2 linked regions of the Homo sapiens genome follow. The protein of the gene in region 1 purifies or fractionates together with the protein of each later gene. This does not show direct contact. Each region holds a gene or a part of one and is shown on either strand. Other genes may lie near its edges.

Region 1 (4,842 bases):
ACTGTCCCAGGAGGAAGATAGAACAGGGATGGGCCCACTCCGTCTGATGTATTCTCACTGCGCCTTACTGGCAACCCTTCCAGAAGCTGGTAGTAATAACAAGGGGCACCTATTCTAGACTTAGATCTGCTCTGCAAGGAAGATGCTGGTGAAAAAGAAATGAATGGACACTTGGGAAGAACCACACACATCATTTTCGAGCCCTGAATGGCCAGAAGGGAATGCTAAGTCTAATGTAGACACAACCTTAGAGTTCGGGCAGAGCTCTTGCAGATGTACACTAAGCCGATTCAGAGAAAGATAGGCTGGAGGCTCGTGACTTGAGAGTCTGGAAGATAAGACAACTTAAGCACTGGGAGACTCTTAGAAACAGGCTTTATTAGGAAATCTGCAAATTATGCCAAGATTGAAGGAAGAAAGATACCTAAAGAGGCAACATGTCTTACATGGGGGAATGGGAGGACTTTATAGGGAGCTCAGATTTTTAAAAAATGGGGTATATTTAGGCATTCAATAGCATACAGTGAAAAAACTGAAGAAAAAAGAAAACATAATCAAGAGAAAAATAAACATGTCAAAAGAAAAATAAGCATATCATAAAAGCTGAATCTCAGAATGAATGAAAATATTTTAGAAGAAAAAGGAATTTTTAACTTCCATTCAGATCATATCTGAAAGGAAAGCTAACAAATGTTAGGGAAAGCACAGCAATATGATCCCTATCTACTCTATTGACGGGATAATCATTCGATGGCCAAGAGAAGATAAGGCGTTGGAATGAAAGAACTTCAGTTCCAGCTTGGCCAAGAGAATTTAAGAGCATCTGTGATTAACCCAGGCCAAGTGCCCTAGCCCAGGTGTATATCTTGGTGAGTCAAGGGGTTTGGTGTCCATGAGTCACCCTCCATCCCTGCTCTCTGAGGGCCTGGGATGGGAGAGCCACCAAAACGGCTGGGGGCGGGGGAGGAGCACTAGCTGTTGAGACGGGAAGTCTGAAGTCAGGAAGGCTAGAGATATTCCCTAGGAAAAGGAATATACTACAGGCAACATTGTGTTGCGGGCTGCAGCTATATACACACACACACACACACACAGATAGGGGACAAACTAGTTAGGATTGCTTTTTTTTTTTTTTTTTTGAGACGGAGTCTGGCTGTGGCCCGGGCTGGAGTGCAGTGGCGCGATCTCTCACTGCAAGCTCCGTCTCCCGGGTTCACGCCATTCTCCTGCCTCAGCCTCCCAGGATTGCTTTCATAGAACGTGCTACAGCATTCTTTTTTCATCTTCTCCCCAATCCATTCTCCCCTCACCAGCTGTCAAGCCCCTTCCTACCGGCCTAGTCCATTTCACATGCCTTATCTTTTTTTTTTTTTTTTTTTTTTTTTTTTGAGACGGAGTCTCGCTCTGTCGCCCAGGCTGGAGTCCAGTGGCGCGAGGTCGGCTCACTGCAAGCTCCACCTCCTGGGTTCTGGCCATTCTTCTGCCTCAGCCTCCCGAGTAGCTGGGACTACAGGCGCCCGCTGCCACGCCCGGCTAATTTTTTGTATTTTTAGTAGAGACAGGGTTTCACCGTGTTAGCCAGGATGGTCTCGATCTCCTGACCTCGTGATCCGCCTGCCTCGGCCTCCCAACACATGCCTTATCTTGCCAGTGTCATTGCCAAGCTACGTTTGTATGCTTACAAATCTGTAGATTACTGGATCTCAATGTGTGGGCCTCTGACCAGTAGCACTGTCATCACCTTTGAGCTTTTTAGAAACACAAATTCTAGCAAAATCTCTGGTGAAGAAACCCAGCCAGAGATGTGTGCTTTAATAAGCTAAGTGATTGCTAAGCAATGTAAGTTTAAGAACCATGGTTTCAAAAGACTGGGCACATGTGGTAACCTATGAGAACTCAGGCATAGCATCTTAATCTTTTCACTATTGTGTCCCCCGCCTTTTTTTTTTTAATCACAATTTCTCTGAAAGATACTTTACGTAAGCAACCCATAATGTAACTTAAATATCTTGGTAAATTCAAAGTTCAAGCTATATAACCGTCATACCTACTGAACTGCTGATGGGTTAGCACCAAACCTTCCAGCCTGATGGGAAATCTCACATCACAGCTTCCAACCATGTTCTGAATTTTAAAATCGAGGAATCTGGCAGGGAACCCAAGCTTCTGCACCACACGAGCATATTTTCTTGCTGCAAGTCGAGACTGCTCTTCACTGGGGAGGGGCAAATATGTTTAAAGATGTCTTAATCGCTACATCCTCTCAACTACTGGTGTTGTATTGGATTGTTACCATTTGTACCACGTTTATCTTTCAATGTATACTATGAAGCTGTAGGCTTTGTGAGGAGGACTTACTTCCCATACTTTCGTCCCTAGCACCTTATAAAAGGTCTTGTAAAATTGTACAGCTGTTGAACAGAATCATAAATTTTTGTCTTCATTTGTCACCTTTCATATATGAAGTACTTTTACTTTTACTTGGGTGTTATTTGCTAAAACGATTCCAAGGATTCGCAAAGTGTGTCCCCAGACCAGCAGCTTCACCTGGGAACTTGTTAGAAATGCAAAGTCCCAGGTTCCACCTCAGACATGCAGAAACTCTGGGGGTGGGGCCGAGCAATCTGTCTTTTAACAAGCCCTCTAGGTAACTGTGCTGCTCACTGCAGTTTGGGAACCATTCATCCAGTCTCAAAGTATGTCCCATTTAGAAGAGAACAATGGCTGGGCACAGTGGCTCACGCCTGTAATCCCAGCACTTTGGGAGGCTGAGGCAGGCAGCTCACCTGAGGACAGTAGCTCGAGACCGGCCTGGCCAACATGATGAAACGCTGTCTCTACTAAAAATACAAAAAAATTAGCTGGACATGGTGGCGGGCACCTGTAATCCCAGCTACTCAGGAGGCTGAGGCAGGAGAATCACTTGAACCTGGGAGGCAGAGGTTGCAGTGAGCTGAGATCGCGCCATTGCACTCCAGCCTAGGCAACAAGAGTGAAACTCCGTCTCAAAAAAAAAAAAAAAAAAAAAAAGAAAACAACAAGAAAAAATAAGGACACATGCATACAAAAAAAAATCGCATATAAGGAGGTAAGATATGTGCTGATTGAGTGGCACAGACAAGGTATCAGTTCTTGAGTCTTTATTGGACACACTGTCCAAAACAACCACATGAAAATACCTCAAAACCCCCCTTGTTTTGCTCGGCTTTCTCACCCAATCTTCAATTCAATTCAAACTCAACACAAGAAGGACAGGAATTTGTCCTACTCTGTGGCTATGTCCTTTAAGTGTCTGTCCTGCTGCACCCCTAAATTCATAGCAGAGCCTGTGGAGTCCTGAGAGGTGAGGCTTCATTTCTCCTTAGGTATTTTTCAACTGTTAGTGACAAAACAAAACAGTAGGTAGCAACACCTGCAGGGTGAATCAGGTGAATTCCACCCCCCTCATGGGTTTGGCCCTATTTTTAGGCTGTAAATCAGAAACACCTGAAAGAAAAGCCAGTTTGAACTTGTTTGCCTGGACTAAAGCAAGTGTTTGATTCTCTTATCCAGATCCTTCACCAACACTGCCCCCTCTTGGGTATTCGTTACTACATACATGTGTCACCTCATTTAATGTTGATTCTCCTCACCCACTTTAAAAAAAAAAAAAAAAAAAAAAAAAGAGATTGGGTTTTTGCTCTGTTACCCAGGCTGGAGTGCAGTGGCATGATCATAGCTCACTGCAGCCTTGAACTTCTGGCCTTAAGTGATCCTCCTGCCTCAGCCTCCTAAGTAGCCTGCAGGGGCATGCACCACCACACCTGCCTAAATTTTTATAGAGACAGGGTCTTGCTGTCTTGCCCAGGCTGGGCTCAAACTCCAGGACTCAAGTGACCCTCCCAACCTCAGCCTCCCCAAGTACTGAGGTTACAGGTGTGAGCCACTGCACATGGCCATCTGTTGATCTGGTATCTACTCACTAGATTGACTACAGCTGCACAGCACTGCCCTTGGCTCTCTTCACCCACTTCTCACTCTTGAAATGTCCTTAGCAAGGCCATGTCCCCAGGTTAGCAGTAAAATAAACTGTTTCCATTTTGAACTACATTTTGCCTAACTAATCTATTACATTTCCCGTAATGTAAATAAGTTCAAATTTGTTCAAGTTTGCATAGTCCTGTAGTTTCTTGGGATATCAGCTGTGATATTCTAAGGACACAGAAGTTTCTATTGAAACAACTAATAGTTGAAAGTCTATATACATGTTCATTGTACAAACATTAGAAAGTAGTTTAAAAATCTTAAAATCTCACCCATACTGGTGTTAACTACCTAAATTTGATCTTCTGCACTTTTCCTACGCAAACACAGGTATCCCTCATACTCTTGCTGTTACAACAAAAGAGAATAGGTTTGGATAAAATGTGGAGATAATACTGGCACCTCTTATTAACTAAATTCTCACAACTCACTATCCAAAACTTCAAAACCAAATATATTTGGATAAAAAGTATCTCTTATTATCTGAACTCATTATCCAAACTTTCACTATCAGATTTTAGGAATAAATTCAGATAAGAAAAGACACTCATGAATGTGTGTAATATGTGTAACATGAGCATATTTTACAATGAAAGTTGGATAACAAACACCATTTAGCTGCTTACTTCTCCCTCTGCAATCCAACTTAATACAATGTGACCATCCTTTCAGCTCAGTATGTGTACTATATGGCTAATACAATTTTACTTTATGACTTCAAATTGAAACCCTATTATTAATTAGGTTTTCCCTGTTCTATTGCTGAAATGAACATTATTACAGACATCTTGCACAACTGTCCAATAATCACTTTAAAAT
Region 2 (4,842 bases), on another chromosome or scaffold:
AATTACCACCATGACCTCACATCACTACGGGACCGTCAGTGAATGCATGTCCAAGCCCTTTAACTATATTGTACTTACAAAGGTATGATGACGTTTGTTTACATGATTCCTCTTTCTCATAAGGTGAACCTCAACTTAGTCCATGACCCAATCACCATATCTCAGCCCAAATTAACAGAAGCGTACAATAACAATTTCCTCTGCTTTATTTAAAGCCATGGTCTCCCAGCCCTAATTCTGAAAGGAATAATTCAATATTTAAAAAAAAAAAAAGTATATCCAGGCCGGGTGTGGTGGCTCACGCCTGTAATCCCAGCACTTTGGGAGGCCAAGGAGGGTGGATCATGAGGTCAGGAGTTCAAGACCAGCGTGACCAACACGGTGAAACCCCGTCTCTACTAAAAATACAAAAATTAGCCGGGCGTGGTGGTGCGTACCTGTAATTCCAGCTACTCAGGAGGCTGAGGCTGGAGAATCGCTTGAACCCAGGAGGCGGAGGTTGCAGTGAGCCAAGATCTTGCCACTGCACTCCAGCCTGGGTGACGGAGCGAGACTCTATCTAAAAAAAAAAAAAAAAAAAAAAAAAAAAAAAAAGTATGTCCAGGCAAATAAGACCTTCAGCAAATAGAGATGACACAGGCATATTCCACTAGCAACCCAGGGTGGCTGGCTGCCATTTGGGGTATCACATCTTAGAGAACATAAGGGATGCTCAGTCCAACTACAGCCACTAAGGCATCCAAACTAGTGCTGATTTTAAAGGATGGTTGAATATGGCAACCTGACTATATAACCCTATTAGCCTTAAGGGCATTCCAGCTTCTGGCGGTTCTGCGATTGTACTTGGCACTTTCTCCAAGGGTGCAGGAACAAGAGGGGGCTCTTATCCTTTCACTCGCTGAGTATGACACACCGGTGAGCAGAAAAGAAAGTATACCCTAAAACAAACTAGGACTAGAACACCTCCTTGCCCACCTTTGTCTCTGAACCCACATGTTGTCTCCTATCCTGGGTATGAAATGTCCAGAAGAAGGCTAGTCCCTCCATTTGGTCACGGGCCCATCCCCTCTCGTCTACCAAATGACATCATTCCCAGACTTTTCTTTCTCTCCTGTATCCATTTTCCCTTTTGACTAGATCATTCCCAACAGCATACAAACACGTTATTTCTTTTATCTTAAAAAATAAAAACACGAAACACCTCTCTTAATTCCTTCATTTTCCCCCTTTTAGTTACCACTGCATCACTCTCCCTCCCTGTACTGCAGGAACACCACACGACTTTCTGTGCCAATGGAAATGTTCAATATTTGCACTGCCTAGTAGAGCAGCCACTGGCCGTATGTGGCTATCAGACACTTGAAATGAATGTGGCTAGTGAGGTTAAGGAACTGATTTTCAGTTCTTTTCTTTTGAGACAGAGTCTTGCTGTGTCGCCCAGGCTGGAGTGCAGTGGCGCGATCTTGGCTCACGCCAAGCTCCATCTCCCAGGTTCACGCCATTCTCCTGCCCCGGGCTCCCAAATAGCTGGGACTACAGGCGCCTGCCACCACGCCTGGCTAATTTTTTTTTTGTATTTTTAGTAGAGATCGGGTTTCACCATGTTAGCCAGGATGGTCTCGATCTCCTGACCTCGTGATCTGCCCACCTCAGCCTCCCAAAGTGCTAGGATTACAGACGTGAGCCACCGCGCCCGGCCTTTAGTTTTATTTCATTAATTTAAATTTAAATACCTACACGTGGCTAGTGGCTGCTATAAGGGACAGCACAAGTCTATACTCACTGACTCCTCTTCTCTCCTCCCATTCTCTCTGAATTTACTCCAGGTCTTCGCTCTCATTCTTACTGAAATGGCTCTCATCAAGGTCACAAATGACATCCACACTGCCAGATCTAATGGTTGAATTCTCAGTCCTCCTACCATTGGAGCCACCCACAGCTTTGGACACAGCTAATTGCTCTTTTCTCCCTGAAACACTTACTTCCCTTGGCCTCCAGGACACAGCCCTCTTCCAGTTCTCCCACCTCCATGCTGGTTCTTCCTCATCTCTTCAAGCTCTACACACAGCAACAGCTCCAGGACTCAATGTGCCTCCTCTTCTTATCCTCACTCATCCCTGGAAGAGCTCATCCACGCTCATGTTTTTAGACACGACCTACAGGCTGCTGGCTCCCAAATACGCATCTCCTGCCCTAACTGCTCCTCAAACTCCAATTATATATCCAATTCTTCACCTGACATCACCGCCTGATGTCTAACAAGCATCTCAAACTTAACACATCTATGTTTAAGACACGAACATCAACTCCTGACTTCCCCCACACACCTGTTCTACCCGGTGGTTGTTCCTATCTTGGCTGAAGGCAATTCCATCTTTCCTATTGTTCAGGCAAAAAACCTTACCGTTTTCTTTAACTCTCATATCTACTCTATCAACTGGCTCTGCTCTGAAAGTGATCTAGAATCTGACCAAATGATCTAGGTGACCACATCTCCTTATTTTTGCTCCTCCTACCATCTCTCAGTTTACTGTGACAGCATCCTAACTGGTCTCCCTGCTTCTGCCTGCCCTCTATAGCCCATCCTCAGCACAGCAACCTGACTGACCCTGTTAGCAAACCTACCTTGGATCCTGACCCTCCTCTGCTCAACATCTCCAGTGGGTCCACCTTACTGAGTAAATGGCAAAGTGTCTAATCTAACCTTTAAGACCCTGTAAGATCTGACTCCCCGTGGGCCCTCTCGGACCTCATCCCCTACTGTTCTCCTCCTTGTTCACTCCACTCTGGCCACCCTGATGTCCTTGCTGTTCTTCAATACAACAGGGGAGCTCCTGCCTCAGGGCCTTTGCATCTGCTGCCCCTGCTGCCTAGAATGGCTCCACCCCCAGACATGTCCATGCCTTGTTCCCTTCCGGTCTTTACTCAAATGCCCCCTTCTCGGTCACTCTACCTAATACTGCATCCCTCCCATTCCCATCCCCACTTCCTATCTCCTCATTTATTATTTTTCATTAGCCCCATGAGGACAGGGAATTTTGTTTATTTGGCTTCCTACTAATATCCCAGCACCTGGAACTGTATTTGTTGAATGAACGAGTGAATCCCCAGGACACGGATGTGTCTCTAAGCAGGAGATTGGGTCACATCTGGATCATCACGCAAGCCCTTATGCAGGCCCCTAACAGAAAGCCAAAGAGACCTGAGGTCGATCATGTCCAGGTCCCAGGGTGACAGACTGAGGGCAGTGTGCGACAGTTTGGGGGATACTCTGAGGTAGGCAGAAGGTGGAACCCACCATGCTGATATGAAGAGCAAGGTTCTCTGTGTCTGTCTGTTCATCCTGCTCCGAGGAATCTGTCTCTTCCATTTGTTGCATCTCCAGTTCAGACGGAAGAAGAGCTGTCAGGTAGGGGATGGTGAAAGGTCTGGCAGCAATCACTGGCGAATTGGAAGAGAGGCATGAGTCCACTGTCACAGAGACCTCGCAGCTGGCTTAGAGTCCTAGAGCCTCACAACAAATCAGTGAGCAGCACCAGAAGATAATACTAGCTAACTCGCTCCAAGTACTTACACAACAGGCCAGGCAATGTTCTACGGGCTTTACTCATGTTATCTTTCATCCTTGCTCCCATCCTATTAAGTACGATTAGGCACAGAGAGGTGAAATGACTTTCCCAAGCATGCTAAAAATGGCAGAATGGGATTCTAACTCAAGCAGCATGACTTCAGAATCTACTTTTTGCCAAGTACAACTGAGATAAGATGGAAATGAGGCTATAGATAGAATCCTAGCAACACATAAGTTTTGAGATCCTGCACCCAAGGTCAGTTAAACCCCTCTAAGCTTCACTTCCAGAGCAGGAATATTGATTCTTTTACCCTGAAGGACTCAAGTCCAAAGGCTGGATTTGAGCACTCTGCATATATGCATGTCCACTGAGCTGTAAGACACTCTGGTCAATGAGAGTTCTAGCTCTTCCAAAAAGCAATGAGGATGAGAGGAAGAAATTGAATAAAAAATAACATTAAAAGAAAGAAGGCCGGGTGTGGTGGCTCATGCCCATAATCCTAGCACTGTGGGAGGCTGAGGCAGGAGGACTGGTTGAGCCCAGGAGTTTGAGACCAGCCTGGGCAACATGGTGAAATCCCGTCTCTAGGAAAAATAAAATTAGCCAGGTATAATAGTGCATGCCTGTAGTCCCAGCTACTAGGGAGGCTGAGGTGGGAGACTCATTTGAGTCCAGGAGGTCCAGGCTGCAGTGAGCTGTTTGTGCCACTGTACTCAAGACTGGGCGACAAAGTGAGATCCTGTCTCAAAACAGAAAAAGAAAAAGTCTCTGTGTGTACTTCTATGGTAGAATGTGACTGTTAGAAAATACTCTAGAATTGGCTGGGTGTGGTGGCTCATGCCTATAATCCCAGCACTTTGGGAGGCTGAGGCAGGCAGATCACTTGAGCTCAGGAGTTCAAGACCAACCTGGCCAACTGGGTGAAACCCCGTCTCTACTAAAAATACAAAAAATTAGCTGGGTGTGGTGGCTCCTGCCTGTAGTCCCAGCTACTTGCTGAAGCAGAAGAATCGCTGGAACCCGGGAGGCGGAGGTTGCAGTGAGCAGAGATTGCGCCACTGTATTCCAGGCTGGATGACAAAGCAAGACTCTGTCTCAAAAAAACCCACAAAAACTCCAGAATTATTTTTGCTGTGGGTCAGATGTGGGGTCCTGCAGTAAGAGCTAGGTTTGAATGATGTCTACTAGCCATGTTCCTTGAGGAAGTGACTTCATTTCTCTTCTCTTGTGCCTCATTGAAGGGTTCCTATGAAGGTAGTGATATATCAGT

Evidence for each region. The genes of interacting proteins can lie anywhere in the genome.
Region 2: the proteins of TBPL2 (region 1) and TAF8 purify together in Homo sapiens (co-immunoprecipitation; one large-scale study listed by IntAct). This does not show direct contact.

Annotation. Positions count from the first base shown.
Region 1 is NC_000014.9:55,426,760-55,431,601, forward strand, and holds part of TBPL2 (TATA box-binding protein-like 2), read right to left. Parts: intron 2,216-4,842; coding exon 2,048-2,215; intron 1-2,047. UniProt on the Homo sapiens protein: Transcription factor required in complex with TAF3 for the differentiation of myoblasts into myocytes. The complex replaces TFIID at specific promoters at an early stage in the differentiation process.
Region 2 is NC_000006.12:42,067,064-42,071,905, reverse strand, and holds part of TAF8 (transcription initiation factor TFIID subunit 8), read right to left. Parts: intron 3,442-4,842; coding exon 3,299-3,441; intron 560-3,298; coding exon of another isoform or gene 438-559; intron 1-437. UniProt on the Homo sapiens protein: The TFIID basal transcription factor complex plays a major role in the initiation of RNA polymerase II (Pol II)-dependent transcription.